2 separate regions of the Homo sapiens genome follow, and region 1 is reported to be linked to region 2. The links are microRNA targets in miRTarBase. Many come from high-throughput screens and were not tested one by one. Region 2 holds a microRNA gene; the other region holds the end of a gene's coding sequence.

Region 1 (7,352 bases), not on the chromosome of region 2:
GTATGCAATAAATGCTATTTATCTTAGTGTTCATTTGTGGAGAATCAAATTAAAAAGCCTATACCAGACCCGAACTCAGCTCTGTTACTAATTGCCTGTGTGAATGTGAGCAAATTGCCTAAACTTTCTTGCCCTTGGTTTCCTTGAGAGGAAATAAAATGAGAGGATTATATTAGATGATCTTGAGTCCCATCCAGCTCTGAAAGTGTATTTCCAACATTTGCCTGTTGGAGGCAGTGTTGAGCATATTAGTGCTCCATGTCAGAATATTAAAGAGCAACACAGGGTCTCCCTAGGGGCTGCTAAACCAGTGATGGGAAGAAAATAACAGTTCATGCATTCTTGTCCTTGTGTTCACTTACTGACAGTGCATCTGGACTGAAACCCTTTCTTGTGACCTAGGTGTTCTAGACCTGTTGGGTGTATGGCTTGCTTCTCAGGGAAGATGTTTGCACCACCTGACCTGAATCCATGGTGCCAGTGAGTGAGTGCCAGTACCCAGGAGAGCTGGCCTCATAAGGATAATAGAGTTAAATGTTTTTGAACTGGAACTTTAGCATTAGCCTGGCTTCATGGCCCAGACAATAAGGAGCTGTTTTATGAAGTTATCAGAGGGGGCTGAGTGTGTCTGAGGAACAAGAGCTGTGTTATTTGGATGCACTGCAAGAGCCTTATTAAGCTTGAGGAAGGAGAGAGGATTTCCCCTTTGGAGAAAATGCAACACTGTCCAAAGACTGTGAGGTTTGCCAAGGACATTTGGACAATGAAGTGCTGCAGGTGCAATGAAGTCATGTTTCAGGCAAAGATTGACCTTAAAAAAATAAACAGAATGCTGGAGATGACAAATCAGGCTTGTGACTACTGGTGACGCAAAAGTCAGATCCAGGCAGAACTGGTTGAGCAAAGAAAGAAAGTCCTTCTGCTTCTGGTTTTCGGTGCAGTGACAGGCCTTGGTGCCTTAGTTTCTCCTCAAGTTAAGTGGGTGAATGGCAGAAGCTCTGGTGGGAGGCTGGAGGCCAGAACGTGAGAAGCCAATGCTGCTTCCTCTCCCATGGCCGCTCCTGCCTTGTCTCTGCCTTTCAGTGTGGTGCCACCGGTAGAAGGCTTGTTTTGAATCTCCAATGATCCATCAGCTTCTTCTTAATTTTATATTTTTCTTCTTTCCACCTGTTTCTCAAGGCTTGATGAATGTAGAACTGGCATAAACAAATCCAGAGTGGATACAATTAGAAAGAACCAGAGACATTTTTTCAAATTGGACCTGAATCTACACCAATACATCATCTTAAAGCATATAGGAGTTACTTTCCCTGCTTGCTTTTGAAAGTTTTCATTTGGTCTGTGAGTTCTCATCTGGACTGGTAGTGTCCAAATGACCCAGTATTGTTGAAGAAAGCTTTATCACATATGTGTAGGATTGGGTTATGGAAGAAGCAAAGGTTTGAGGAGGCATTCAGCTAAACATCTTCAGGAATGTGGTCAAAGAGAGGCTACAGGAACAACCCCAGGGGCCAGCCTGTAACTCAGCTTTCTTTAGAGGATAGACCCTCTCTGTCATGGTAACCTGGATGAAAGCAGACCATCAGGGAAGTGAGGCAGAGCTGAGTATGCAGCTCCTGGCATCTGGGTGGGAGGCAGACTCCCAGACTTCACACATCTGCCCCATTCCTCTGAGGTCCTGAGACTCCTCCTGCAGCCGTGGCAAGTTTGAAGCAAGTGAAAACAAATTATCCCAACTTCTTTGGGATTATTGAAACTGAACTGAATTTTGAATCTTTCAGAGGTTTCTTAATAAAAATTTAAGAGTGGACAGTGAGATGCAAGGAAGGCGGAAAGTGTCCCCCAACCCCATGCCCTACCTCCTTGGAAGAAAAGACATGGAACTAAGAAATCAGATTGACTAGTATTCTGGTGATAAGAAAGCAAGCAGTAGAATACCATATATCCTGGGCATGTGGCCCCACCTTTCCTGAAATTCTGGGTGGAGGTTACAAAAAAGAAAAAGAAAAAGAAAAAATGTTTTCATGTCCCTAGGGTATTTGCAAATCCAGGTCACCAGCTAGTCTATTTCAACACCCATAGCTTGGTGTATCTAGTGTTCTTGCATGTTCTGTCTTTTCTCCAGAGGAGAGGACAAAGAGGAACTCATAAACTCTTTCCCAACTGATGCTTTTACAAGAGCTATTTGAAAAGATTCCACAATGACTTTTTGTCCCTTAATCTACAGCTCTGCTCTGAGACTGGATTTGAAAAGTAAAAATGTGATTAGGATTGTTTGGTTTGGCATTGAGGTTATTGGCAACCATGGTTCTTTAGGTCTGGCTTTGAAATATCAGGGTGCTGGTTGGTTCTCAGGTGGAAGGAAGCGGGGCATTAGGAGTCCTACCACTTTATGAGTAGTAGAGGGGGAAGTTGGTAGGTGAGGGACAGGTGGATTCAAATATTTGTAGATGTTTGCTTTGCATTTCCTTGCTGCCATATGTTGTTGTTGTTCTTTTACAAATCAATCTCCCATACAAATCAGCTGGCCGGTTTTCCTGAGTCCTGGTTTGGCTCTCCTGGAAACTTGGAGACGTGGCCTTTCTCAACCCCGCTGACGTTTCACACGGGGTTTCAGGAGGTGACTGCCACCTTGTGGCCACACTTAGCAAGTCCCCTTCCACCAGTTCACTGTGGTCTCAAGGCCAACAGTTTTCCACAGACTTGTCATTCTTGCCACCTCTTCTACACCTGACCCCTTCACCTTCCAGAAATAACCCTGGTGAATGTGCATCTGATATGTTGGAAATTATCTTTATATGTTGGGGAAATGCAAAAAAGGGAAACTGCCTGGACCTTGGGTCTAGACAGTGAATCTATTGCAGTCATTGGTGGTGGTTTTGGTTTTGGGTATTAGTACATATCCTGATGTGTCTGTAGTTAAACAGCCTCTGAGAAGGGTCTACCTCGATTCCTTTTGAGTCCCTTGAGGGAAACTGGTGTGCATAGGGTGGGTGCTTTGAGAGTATTGCTTACTGGATCTACCTTTGGGAAATGCAGTTGTGCTTGGAGGAGCAGGATAAGCAGGAATCAGCGAGGAAAGTTATGAGCATTGAGTCAAGTTGACCATAGACCTTGGGATGAGAGTGGGGCACAGTGTCTTTTAAACATGGTGAAAACTCATGAGAAAATCACCCTATTAAATAAAAGGAATCTATAAATCCTTTTATAGAGGGTTGAATAAGCTGATCTTTGAAGTCTCTTTCTTGCTTCAAAATAAAGCTATGCAATGCCGCTGGTACTATTTATAAAAATGTTCCATAGTGTAGAATGGTTTCAATAAAAGGAAGATTTTTGTTTCCACTGATGTTTCTTGACTTTCACCTGAATTGACAACACATAATCTTTTTCCATTTCAACTTCCTTGATGAAGTGGGCGTGCTGGCACCACCCAGGTACCTGGTCTCTGTTTTTATGGACAAAAAGAGTTCAGCCTCTCACTCGGCATGATCTTTTCTGCAGTATTTTCGTGTGTGTGTGTGTGTGTGTGTGTGTGTTTTACTTATGACTCCTGAATCAATCTCTCTCTTTTCTTTCCCTCCCTCCCTCCCCTTCCTTCTTTCCTTCCTTCCTTCCTTCCTTCTTTCCTTCTTTCCTCATTAAACAGGGAGTCTAGTGAATTTTCATTACCTAATTGTGCTGTCCCACCATGCCAATTTCTACTTAGGTTTTCAGATCACAGATTAGCATCATTGACCGTCAAAACTGAAAGGGAAATTAGAACTCATTCTAGTCTAATCTCTCATCTGACAGATGAAGAAACTGGCCCAGAGAGGTGAAACAACCCAGCCGATGTCATGTCGTAGCTAAGATGACAGCTGTTGGCCTGTACCTCGGCCCTCAAGTTTCCCATGCAATGTGCTTCCTACTATTCATTGTTGCCCCGTCTCTAGGTAAGTCTTCTGTAATTTACATGCTTGTTGAAAGGATCTGTTTCTGTTTTTTCCTCCTCCCAGTTTGTTGAAGCCCATGGTTAACTGAGAAATGCAAGTGGTGCCTAGGTTTTTCAGGGTTATGCCTGTCACATCCACACTGCCGCAGTGAACAAAGCCTAGAAGCCTGCGGCAAGGGAAGCGCCTCCATTCAATGGTGGCTGGCTGCATCCCCATGAGGTCCGAGGCCTGATGGTCAGCCCAAGGGACTTTTCATCTTGGTTCTCAAAGCTTGGTAAGAGTGAGGATATTTCCATTAGAAAATTGCCGACACTAAGGCTCATCCAGTAACTGGTTGGCAAAGGTACACACTGCTCTGGTCAGACAAACATAGGCACTACAGAAAATGGTGCTGGGCCTTGAGGAATGGGAGAGGAAAGGGAGAAGACAGCTCAGGGAACTGGGCATGGATCTGGGCAGATGTTGCGGGGATGGTTGCTGATATTGGATTTGGAGGAGAAATTGAAAGGTCACGGCTTCTAGAGCATCTAGCTCTCTTGGGCTTAAGATCAAATTGTGCTAGTGAAGACAGTGCATCTCATAAAATGGGAAGTAGGCCCACAGTTATCACCTATTCACCTTTGGATTTCTGGATGTAATTTCCTTTGGCTATTGTCATTTTTCCTTTGCAAGGCAGAATAATAAAAGAAGATGGAAAGGCTTCTCATGATCTCACCTCATTAAGAAGGTCATTCCTGTTTCCCATAGGACCAAAAAAGAAAAAAAAAATCAACCTCTTTCCAGGATTATCAGTCAGGGGTATAGCTCTCTGGGCATATACCTTCTTCTCCTGACTCTTATTAAGCCACCTACACTAAGGAGGGCTTGGGTGAAGATAGATATGAGGCCTTCGGTTTGCAATTCAGAAAAAAAGAATCTGTGACAAATAGGACCAGAAATGGAGAAAACAGGGCTAGGGAAGATCTGTGTTTCCCATGGAAACTATAATCTCTATGGCAGTGCCCTGATTTTGACTTCTTCAGTCCTTTCCTCAATGCTTGACCCAAAAGTGCTAAAAACTACAACCATCTCCCCCTCCTACCTTTGCAGAAAGTGACTGTCTGTCTGACCTGAGGGTGGGGGCAGTGGCTGATGACTCACAGGCACATAGCCACTGTGCCACCCAGGGCCAGGAGCAGGCAATGCCTTGGGAACTAGATTCCAAAATGCTGGTTGGGCTTTTGAGGCTCTGGGGTCTAAGACAGGATGGGATTAGGCAAAAGACTCCATCAGGGCCAGAAAAGAGCCACTGTTCTTGAAAGGTAACAGGACATGTGGCTGGTATAATAAGAGTGTCAGAAGATGAGAATCTTTGGCCCATTATAAAGGACTTGGGGCTGGATGCAGTGGCTGTAGCCTGTAATCCCAGCATTTTGGGAGGCTGAGGTGGGAGGATTGTTCAAGGCCAGGAGTTTGTGACCAGCCTGGACAACACAGTGAGACCCCCATCTCTACAAAAAATAAAAGAAAAATCAGCCAGGTATGGTGGCTCATGCCTGTAGTCCCAGCTACTCAAGAGGCTGAGACGAGAGGATCACTTAAGCTCAGGAAGTCGAGGCTGTAGTGAGCTGAGATTGCACCACTGCACTCCAGACTGAGCAAGAGTGAGATACTGTCAAGAAAGAAAGGAGGGAAGGAGGGAAGGCAGGAAAGAAGGAAGGGAGGAAGGAAGGAAGGAAGGAAAAGAACCTGGGTTGTTGGGATGCGGTGTAGTTGATCTGTTTCCTTTTAAGGGGAATTGTTGGCAAAACTCTCTTGCTGAGGCTCTTTTCTCTGGGCCAGTGTGAGAACCTGGCCATGTCAGGCTGTGACAAAATCACAAATACCTGGAAGGCAGAGGACATCTCAGAAGAAGGGTAGAAAAATGTGTGTGCCTGTCACCATAACAATCTGCACCCCACGACTTGGCTTTGAATTGGCCCTTTAAGAAAACTTCCTACTTCTCCTCCTTGGTGGGAAAGGAGGTGAAGGTTGAGGAGGCCTGGGTAGGAGGGAGAATGGAGACTGAGGGTCAGGCTCCAGGGCAGCAGAAACCAAGAGCAGATGTTAGCCAGCGGATTCCTGCGACATCCCTGCTTCCTTCACATACTCTTAATATGTTGCAAAACACATTGCTATTACCCTCCCCCCTTGTTTCATATTATAAAATACAAACAAATGACAGAAAATATTGGTTGGCTTGCAGCCGCCCACTGCTCAGAACTGTAAGGACTGCCGTTTTCTCCCTGCCATGAGACGGTGGTTGTAGGGGCGCATCTTCATTTCCACAAAGGGGATGGAGAACTCATGGCCTTTCCAATGGTACCAGTTGATGCCCTGGGCGTGAGAAAGATAAGCATGTCAGGTCATCCCCCACCATGGAACGCCCCACTTCAAAAAAGGGGTAATTATGGGAACAGGGAATCCACAATGTGGGGTTAGCTATTTTCAGCTAACATGAAGCTTCAAGGCCGAGTTCCCAATAAAGTGAAAGGGGCAGAGTCTCTTTCTAGCTTTCTCCTTAAATGTGCCGGTGGCCTGGGTCTTTCCAGGGAACATGTTGCAGGTCATTCCTTATTGCCAGCTTTGTTTTTGGCTTCCAGGAGTGGCATGCACCAGTAGATGGTTGTGAAATCCCAACAGGGTGGAAGCATTTGGAAGAGAATAACTGTGTTTGACTGCTCACTCCTAATGGGAGACTTAGGCGGTTTCTACCTAGGGTGACAAACCCTTTTGGTTTGCCTAGAACTGAAGGGCTTCCCTGATGTGGGCTGTTTCAGTGTTAACACTTAGAAAGTCTAGTTGGTCATGGTGGTCTCCCTGTCACCCAGCTTAGCCTATAAACTTGTGGTCTCTGATAGGGAAAGATTGTCCAGTTCACACTGGTATTTTCGATGTCTACCTTCCTGGGACCATTTTTAGGGTAAAGTTGAGTCTGTGAAGCTGTCCCCAGGACTGATAAGCTCTCTTCATGGGATCTTCTGGATCCAAGGGCTTCTCTGGGTAAGTTCTGGCTCCTGGGTCCTTTCCTTTCCTTCCTCTGGCTTCTACTCTGTCCTGATCTTATCCCATTGTCTGCATTATTTTTCTCAAGACTCAAAATATTTCTTTTTAAAGGGAAATGAAGGACTCACATGTGCTTTTAAAATATAAAGCTAAGGGAGCACGGATTCCACAGCTCTGGCTCATTCATAGCAGAGGTGGAGCATCGCTTACCTGACTGTGCCTGGACTCCCCGTACTTCCCATTGAGGTTGGTCCGGTGGCAGTTCTTATACCACCATGCTCCCTTGTACGACATGGCACAGTTAGTCACTGCAACATCATTGTCTCTATCCTCTGTGGAGAAAGGGCGTCCTTGATGATAGCTGAGGGAGTCCCCTGCAAAAAAGATACATTCATT
Region 2 (7,352 bases):
TCTAAGCCTCATAAAAATGAAGATTTATAAAGTTCATAAGGAAGCATAACAGCTTCATCGCATATTAGAATATTCAGTGATGCTGTATGACACACCCTCTGGTTTCCTTGAAAAAATGATTCGCTCTGTAGTGAAATTAAACCTCCCTTGTGCAGGTATATGCTTGTTTCAAGCTTGGTCCTTAGCTTGAAAAGTAACTGCCTCTTGAGGAAGGAATTCATGAACCTTTAGCTCGTTCTTGAAAGATGAGATTGGTGTAAAGAAGGGATCTGTTCACAACTTGGTTTTGATTGGAACTAGGTGCAGAATCCTAGGCTAAGCCGTTCATCAAACTAATGTTATATGGAAAGCATTTTAAAATGCAATATCCTGATGTTTTACAGAAAGTGACCTTTATGTTACTTTGGCTAAGGAGAAAGCATTTGCCTTTGTTTGAAGCTACGTCCTTTCCCTGAAGATTGCAACTCATAGGAGAAAATATTTTTGACACAAAAAATTATAGTTTCCTTCAGGAAAGGGAACAAAACAGAGAGAGCCTGTAAGCTAATGGAGGAGAAAGAATAAACAAAAATATTTAAGATGCCATAATGAGAATAAACAGTTTTGAGATGTAAAATAATTGGGAGAGCCCACTTCAGATATAGATCTCATAGATAGGAAGGTTTAATCGATGAGATGATTCTAAATTTAAAGATGAGAAATATCTTTGTTCAGTCTTGGTTTTACTAGGAGTTACCTGGGAACTAGAATACTTGCAACATCTGAATTAGTGAACACAAGATCCTCTCTAGGACTTCAGGGAGAGCCTGTCAGTTTTGAAATTCAGTTTGATAGTTTGCCCCGGTAACAGACATACTTCATCTTCCTAATATGGGAATAATTTTTTTTTGCCTTCCTTCTAATCATGACTATTGCCTTAATATAATAAATGCAAGTTTAAATTGGTACATTAGATTCTTTTTAACGTAAGGAATTGTGTCCATTGAAGACGAGATTAGTAGGTACATAGAGGTTGCTATCTGGTCATAAAGAACTGCATTGTGATTGCTACTGATGTATCTTATTTTTTCTGATTAATTTTATTTTTATTTTTTGAGAAGAAATTTCACTCTTATTGCCCAGGCTGGAGTGCAATGGCGCAATCTCGGCTCACCATAACCTCCACCTCCCATGTTCAAGCAATTCCCCTGCCTCAGCCTTCCTGAGTAGCTGGGATTACAGGCATGCGCCACCACGCCTGGCTAATTTTGTATTTTTAGTGGAGACGGGGTTTCTGCATGTTGGTCAGGCTGGTCTCGAACTCCCGACCTCAGATGATCCACCCACCTCAGCCTCCTAAAGTGCTGAGATTACAGGCGTGAGCCTCCGTGCCCAGCCGATTCTTACATCTCTTTAAAAGGAAGACGGTCCACCCTTCTTTGTTTCTCCATCCTGCTGTCTAGATGATGATAGGATTCCTGGAGTTCCAGCATCTGTCCTGGAACATAAGGATTAAAGCCACCTGCTAAGGATGTGGACTATAGAAGGGGCCTGGGCCTCTGATAATCTGCTAACTTGCCATAACCACCTATCTCAAGACTTACACGAGAAATAAATTCTGCATTGTATAAGTCTGTACTATATTGGACTTTTCTGTTATGTGTAGCCAAACTAATCTTGAATAATGTATTTCCAGAACTGATAGTCTCTGTGGTGGTGGCAGCTACCTGTTTACATAACCCTTATCACCCCCTAATGTATTTTTTTTAATTGCCTGTTTCTTCCCACTAGACTTTTTAAGGGCAGGGACTTTGCTTGGATTTTTCTATCTCCAGCCCCTTGAACAGAGCTCACCATATAGTAGGCGTTCAGTAAATATTTGCTAAATGAATGAATGGTGCTTGGAACTAAGTAGATCTTTAATTCATTGTAATTTAATGCTCTAAGATAGGCAGCTTGGGGCAAGAACAAACGGATTCTAATTTACTCTATGTTTTCCACTTTTCCCATGTAGAGTACAGTCATATATTACCCTTAAATCAAGTAATAGTAGTATAATCTGTAATGTAAAAAGTTTGCGTTAAATTCTTTATTAAACATGACTAAGCATTCTGTCCTGATATATCTAAAAGAAATGGGAGAAAGTTTCTAATTTGTTCCCTGTGAAGACTGAACAAAATAAATCATTAAGCAATTTAAATTGCATTAAGAAACTATGTCTAGATTAGAGAAGAGACATGTAATTATGATCCAGGCTCTGTAGTAAAGATGCCTCTATTTGAATCCCAGCTTTACCATTCACCAGCTCTGTTAACTTGGACAAGTTACTTAACCTCTCTGCACTGTTTTTTTTCTGTTAAGCAAGGAAACGAACAGCCCTTTCTTACTAGGTTGTGAGGTCTAATTTGATAAAGCTTGGCAGGTACTAGTATTAATACAATGCTTAAAATTTAGTGAACACATTCTAAATGTTAGCTATTCGTTTTTTGAAATTATTTTATTATTAGGAAGGACTTTACAGATTATTCTCTATCAAAATGTCTTGCAATTTCTATGTATGAAATCTTTAAGAATTCAGTAAAATTTTAGTTCTTTTTTCTTATATGCTTACATGATTGCTACCTCTTCTCTTCATGCCTTGCAAAAGGTAAAGCAGGACAGTATGCCACTGTCCTCAGGGGCTTGTCACATTTTGGAATTCAGGTTACCTGGTTGGTTCGCCAACTCAGCTCTTAGGTACCTTTAAAAAATATTATGATGGTTTTTTTTTTTTTTTCATTTTTCGAGTGGGAGTAATAGTCTCTTGCAGTAGTCTGTGTCCTAAACTGAACTCTCTCATACCTGAAATCTTTAAATATGTGAATAACGATTATGTTTGGAAGATTTAAATTTAATTATTGGTGGAAAATTGTTGACTTAATCATTCACTTCTAATTCTGGTTCTTTTGATTTTTCATAATTAGGATTTTGAGTTGTCTCCTGGTTTTTATTATTTTGCACATATCTGAGTAAAAATACAGATATGTGAAGTTAGATAAAATTTCCAATTGGAACCTAATGATTCATCAGACTCAGATATTTAAGTTAACAGTATTTGAGAATGATGAATCATTAGGTTCCGGTCAGAAATTTTTCATTCAGTTTCAGAATCTTTGGTTTTGACAAAATTGTTGTCAGTGTTTTGTTTGTGTTCTGATCACTTGGTACCCATTCTCTCTCTCTCTCTCTCAAAACATTTGGAATTCTTCAAACTACAAAATTATCTTAACCTCTGAAGTTCCATCAAAGGGTATTTGGCCTGAAAAACTATTATCAGCCGTAAAGTACTCAGGAAACAGTACTTTAGTCAGTAACATTAGTCAGTAACATTAACACGCTAATTGTGAAACCATTATAAAGGCATTTGAAAGTAATATTGAATAATATTTTGATGATTGGAAAAAGATTGAATTGGATTTTAAATGTTTAAGACTTTCAGAACTGGTGTTTTGAAGGGTACGATATGCCCACACATCGGGCACTAAAATCTGGTAGTTTTAATGAATTGCCATTTTGATTTCGAGTATAATCAAGTTTTGCTACTGTGGTGCTTAATCACATGGAACTGAATTTTTATTTACCTCCCCATTTTAGTATCACCATCATCATCATTATCATCATTATCATCCCCTTTCTTCTCCTTCTTCCCTAAACCTTGCAACTCATCACTTGAATGTTGGCACAAGGTTAAAGATATGGACTTTGAAACTATTATTTTCTCAAGTTAGGAAAACCCCAATTTTTATCTCCAGTTTCATGGGATCACTGGTCCTAATCTGTGTCATAATAAGGCAATATAGTTCGGCCTCAACAGAAATAGATGGTATGGTAAACAGAATAATAAACCCCTAAGAATGTCTATGCTCTTATCTCTGGAACCAGTAAAAATGATGAAATTATTCAGGCAGGCCCAGTGTAATCAGATAAGCCCTGTAAAACAAATTTCAAGTGTGAGAAGAATTTGACAAGCCATTGCTGCTTCTAAAATATTCAGGACCACAGACACACACACACACACACACACACACACACACACACACACTCACACACACACACACACACGCAGAGAGAGAAGTGAGTGAGGAGATAGATATGTTAATTTGTTTGACTATGGTGATTATTTCACTGTATATGTACAGTATATCAAAACATCACTGTTGTGCACTTTAAATATATACAATTTAAAAACATATACAGAGCCACATGCAAAGACTGGGGAGAGGCCTCTAGAGCTAAGGTTAAATGCCAGCTGTCAGTTTGCAGGGGAACAGGGATCTCAGTCCTATAACCATAAAGAACTGAGTTTTGGCTTGGCTAGGTGGATCATGCCTGAAATCTCAGTGCTTTGGGAGGCCAAGGTGAGAGGATCACTTGCAGCCAGGTATTTGAGTCCAGCCTGGGCAACATAGCAAGACCCTGTCTCTACAAAAAAAATTTTTTTTTAAAATTAGCCAGGCGTGGTGGTGTGCACCTATAGTCCTAGCTATCTGGAAGCTGAGGTGGGAGGATCAGTTGAGCCCAGGAGCTCAAGGTTATGTTGAGCCATGATCATGCCACTGCCCTCCGGCCTGGGCGACAGTGTGAGACCCTGCCAGTAGCCTGAATGAGATTAGAAATGGATTCTTCTTCAGAGAAAGATGCAAACCTGCTGACACCTTGATTTTAAACTTGTGTGACCCTAAGCAGAGAACTAAGTTGAACTATGCTATGTTTGAACTTCTGACCTACAGAAGCTATAAGATATTAATACTAAATGGATGTTGTTTAAAGTCACTAAGTTTGTAGTAATTTGTTACAGCAGTGGTAAGATACTAACACATGAAGTGTGGGAAGGTATGTAACCAAATCATTTATTACTAGAATAAAGGATCCATAATTCTATTTCTTCATCTACAACCCTTTAAAGTGCTGACTATGAATCAGACTGAAAAACAGAGTGCCATAGTAAAAAAATTAATAGCTAGTGTCAGGTTTATAACTGATTTTGTTGTTTGCTTATTATGCCCATAATCTTACCACCTAAAGACTATTGATGTTTTAATATATTTCATTGTTACCTTACTCTTTTTTATGCTTATGTAAAAATATGTGCCAAATTTTCAATTGCTGTTAGGGTAATTTTCTGATGTTATTAAATAATCTTAACAAACATTATTTCTTATACTACAATAATATTTCATCATTTGGCTCTGCCATGCTTTATTTAGCATTTCTTTGGTAATCTCTAATATTTAGTCTTTTTTTTGTATGATTGTCATATTCCTTGCACTGGACAATTTCAGGTCTAGTTCAAGTCATAAAAGGATTTTCAGTTAATTATGTTATATTTAAACTCACATCAATTGGGTTTTTTTAAAGAAAAAAAACCCTAGATCTCGAAGATGGTTTTGTTATCAGCACATTCTGCATTGAGCTTTCAGCCAACTACTTAATCTATGCTTAGCTTAAAAATAAGATTTGGCTGGGCGCTGTGGCGCATGCCTGTAATTGCAGCACTTTGGGAGCTGAGGCAGGTGGATCACTTGAGCTCAGGAGTTCGAGACCAGCCCAGGCAACATGGCAAAACCTTGTCTATTTTTTAAAACATAAGATTTGACTTTGTTGTGGTATAAGTTGTTTCATAGAATATGAAATTTGAAAATTTGAGTAGTATTTGGTAATGTTCAGAGTTTTAAGCCTTTTGAGTTGTAATAAGTATTTGTTAAATCAGTTTACCATTACACGAGTTTTACATTGCCTTTGAAGTCGTCAGTAATAGAAAAATAGTGTATGTACTAAACTACACAGTATTTTTTATTATTTCAACAAATATTTCTTGATACTACTGTATGCCAGGTACTAACTACATCAGACAACTGGAATATAGTATGGAATAAAATAGTCAAGTCTCTGCTCTCATAGAGTCTCTGGGGTAAGGGGAGAGGTGTGGAGAGACAATAAATATAAAGAATGTGTATTATATCAGATGAATAAATGCATTGAAGGAAAATATAGCAGGATAAGAGGGTAGAGATTGATGAAAGAAGTTCAATTTTAGATAATTAAGAAAAATGAAAATATTGACAGTTGAAATGGAAACTGTTTACCAATATAAAAAATAGTGAAGAAAATTGTTCATTAAATGTGATTTTTCTATGTGATAGTTCATGTAGGAGTATTTTGTATATAAATTTAAATTTAACCATTTAAAGTACTTAAATTGTCTTTTCTATTATTCTAAATAGTTTTAGTTAAAGATGTTTGTTGATTTGAAGTATTTCATTGGTTCTCCCTTATTTTGTTATTTATTTATTTATTTTGAGACAGAATTTTGCTCTTGTTGCCCAGGCTTCAGTGTAATGGCACGATATCGGCTTACTGCAACCTCTGCCTTCCAGGTTCAAGCGATTCTCCTGCCTCAGCCTACTGAGTAGCTGTGATTACAGGCACCCGCTACCACACCTGGCTAATTTTTGTATTTTTAGTAGAGATGGTGTTTCACCATGTTGGCCCAGGCTGGTCATGAACTCCTGACCTCAGGTGATCCGCCTGCCTTAGCCTCCCGAAGTGCTAGGATTACAGGTGTGAGCCACTGCCCCTTATTTTATTTTGTTGGGTTGATCACACTCTTGATTCTCTGTGTTAGGATATTAATCAATTCCTTGAAATACTGTAGTATGTAGATAAACAAAAGTCTAACATTGATTTTACAAAGGAGAAAAAGTTCATATTGCCTTTGATTAGTAAATTTTTTTAAGTATAGAGAGATATCAAATTTTTCAATTTTAAAATAGAGACTTTAAATCTCTATACTCTAACTTTTTTGAGTAGAGAGATATCAAGTAAACTATTCGCTGATGACTGTATCATAAAATTAAGAATGTTTTCAAATGTATGACTTTAATAGTCATTGATAAATTTTCTGCATATAAAATAGTAGAAAAATTAAAAATGAGAATTTATCAAAGTAAGTTTAAAGATTTATGTAGATAAATGGAAGTGATAAATATATTTTGTAAAGCAGTGAGTAAGAATTTCATGAAAGTTGAGTTGTTAGGTGAAATTAACACAAAAGAAAAATACTATTTCAAAAAACAAAAGGTTACTTTTAAATGGTCTCTTTCCGTTTTTTCCTTCCTCTCTTTTAGAAAATCTTAAATTATAGAGGATGAATAATCTTAGTAAAATGTATTTTACTAAGTATCTAATTTCCTAGGATTTAGTTAACAGCTTATTTGCATAAACTATTCTGTTAGGACTTATAATATTAAGAAACAAACTCCAGATGACACTGTATTAAAACTGTTCACATCTAAAATAAGAACTTCTTAATTTGTAATATTGTAAGAACTAAT

The links. Region 2 holds the annotated microRNA hsa-miR-580-5p (UAAUGAUUCAUCAGACUCAGAU, at 3,035-3,056, shown strand). A microRNA usually pairs through its seed, bases 2 to 8, with sites in the 3' UTR of a target mRNA and lowers its output. Matches are read on the target gene's strand: a 7mer-m8 pairs with bases 2 to 8, a 7mer-A1 pairs with bases 2 to 7 and ends in A, and an 8mer does both.
Region 1: miRTarBase lists TNR as a target of hsa-miR-580-5p. The part of its 3' UTR that is shown has no 7-base or 8-base seed match.

What each region holds. Positions count from the first base shown.
Region 1 is chr1:175,317,190-175,324,541 of GRCh38, forward strand. TNR (tenascin R) reads right to left here. Exons shown (of 23, transcript NM_003285.3): 22 at 7,167-7,330; 23 at 1-6,287. The coding sequence ends at 6,168. LOC105371623 (a long non-coding RNA gene) reads left to right here. Exons shown (of 4, transcript XR_001738302.2): 2 at 3,793-3,932. Among named protein-coding and RNA genes, the nearest start is that of KIAA0040, 130 kb to the left of the region's middle.
Region 2 is chr5:36,143,650-36,151,001 of GRCh38, reverse strand. MIR580 (microRNA 580) reads left to right here and starts at 3,014; the gene lies at 3,014-3,110. The region is part of intron 1 of LMBRD2 (LMBR1 domain containing 2); the gene reads left to right.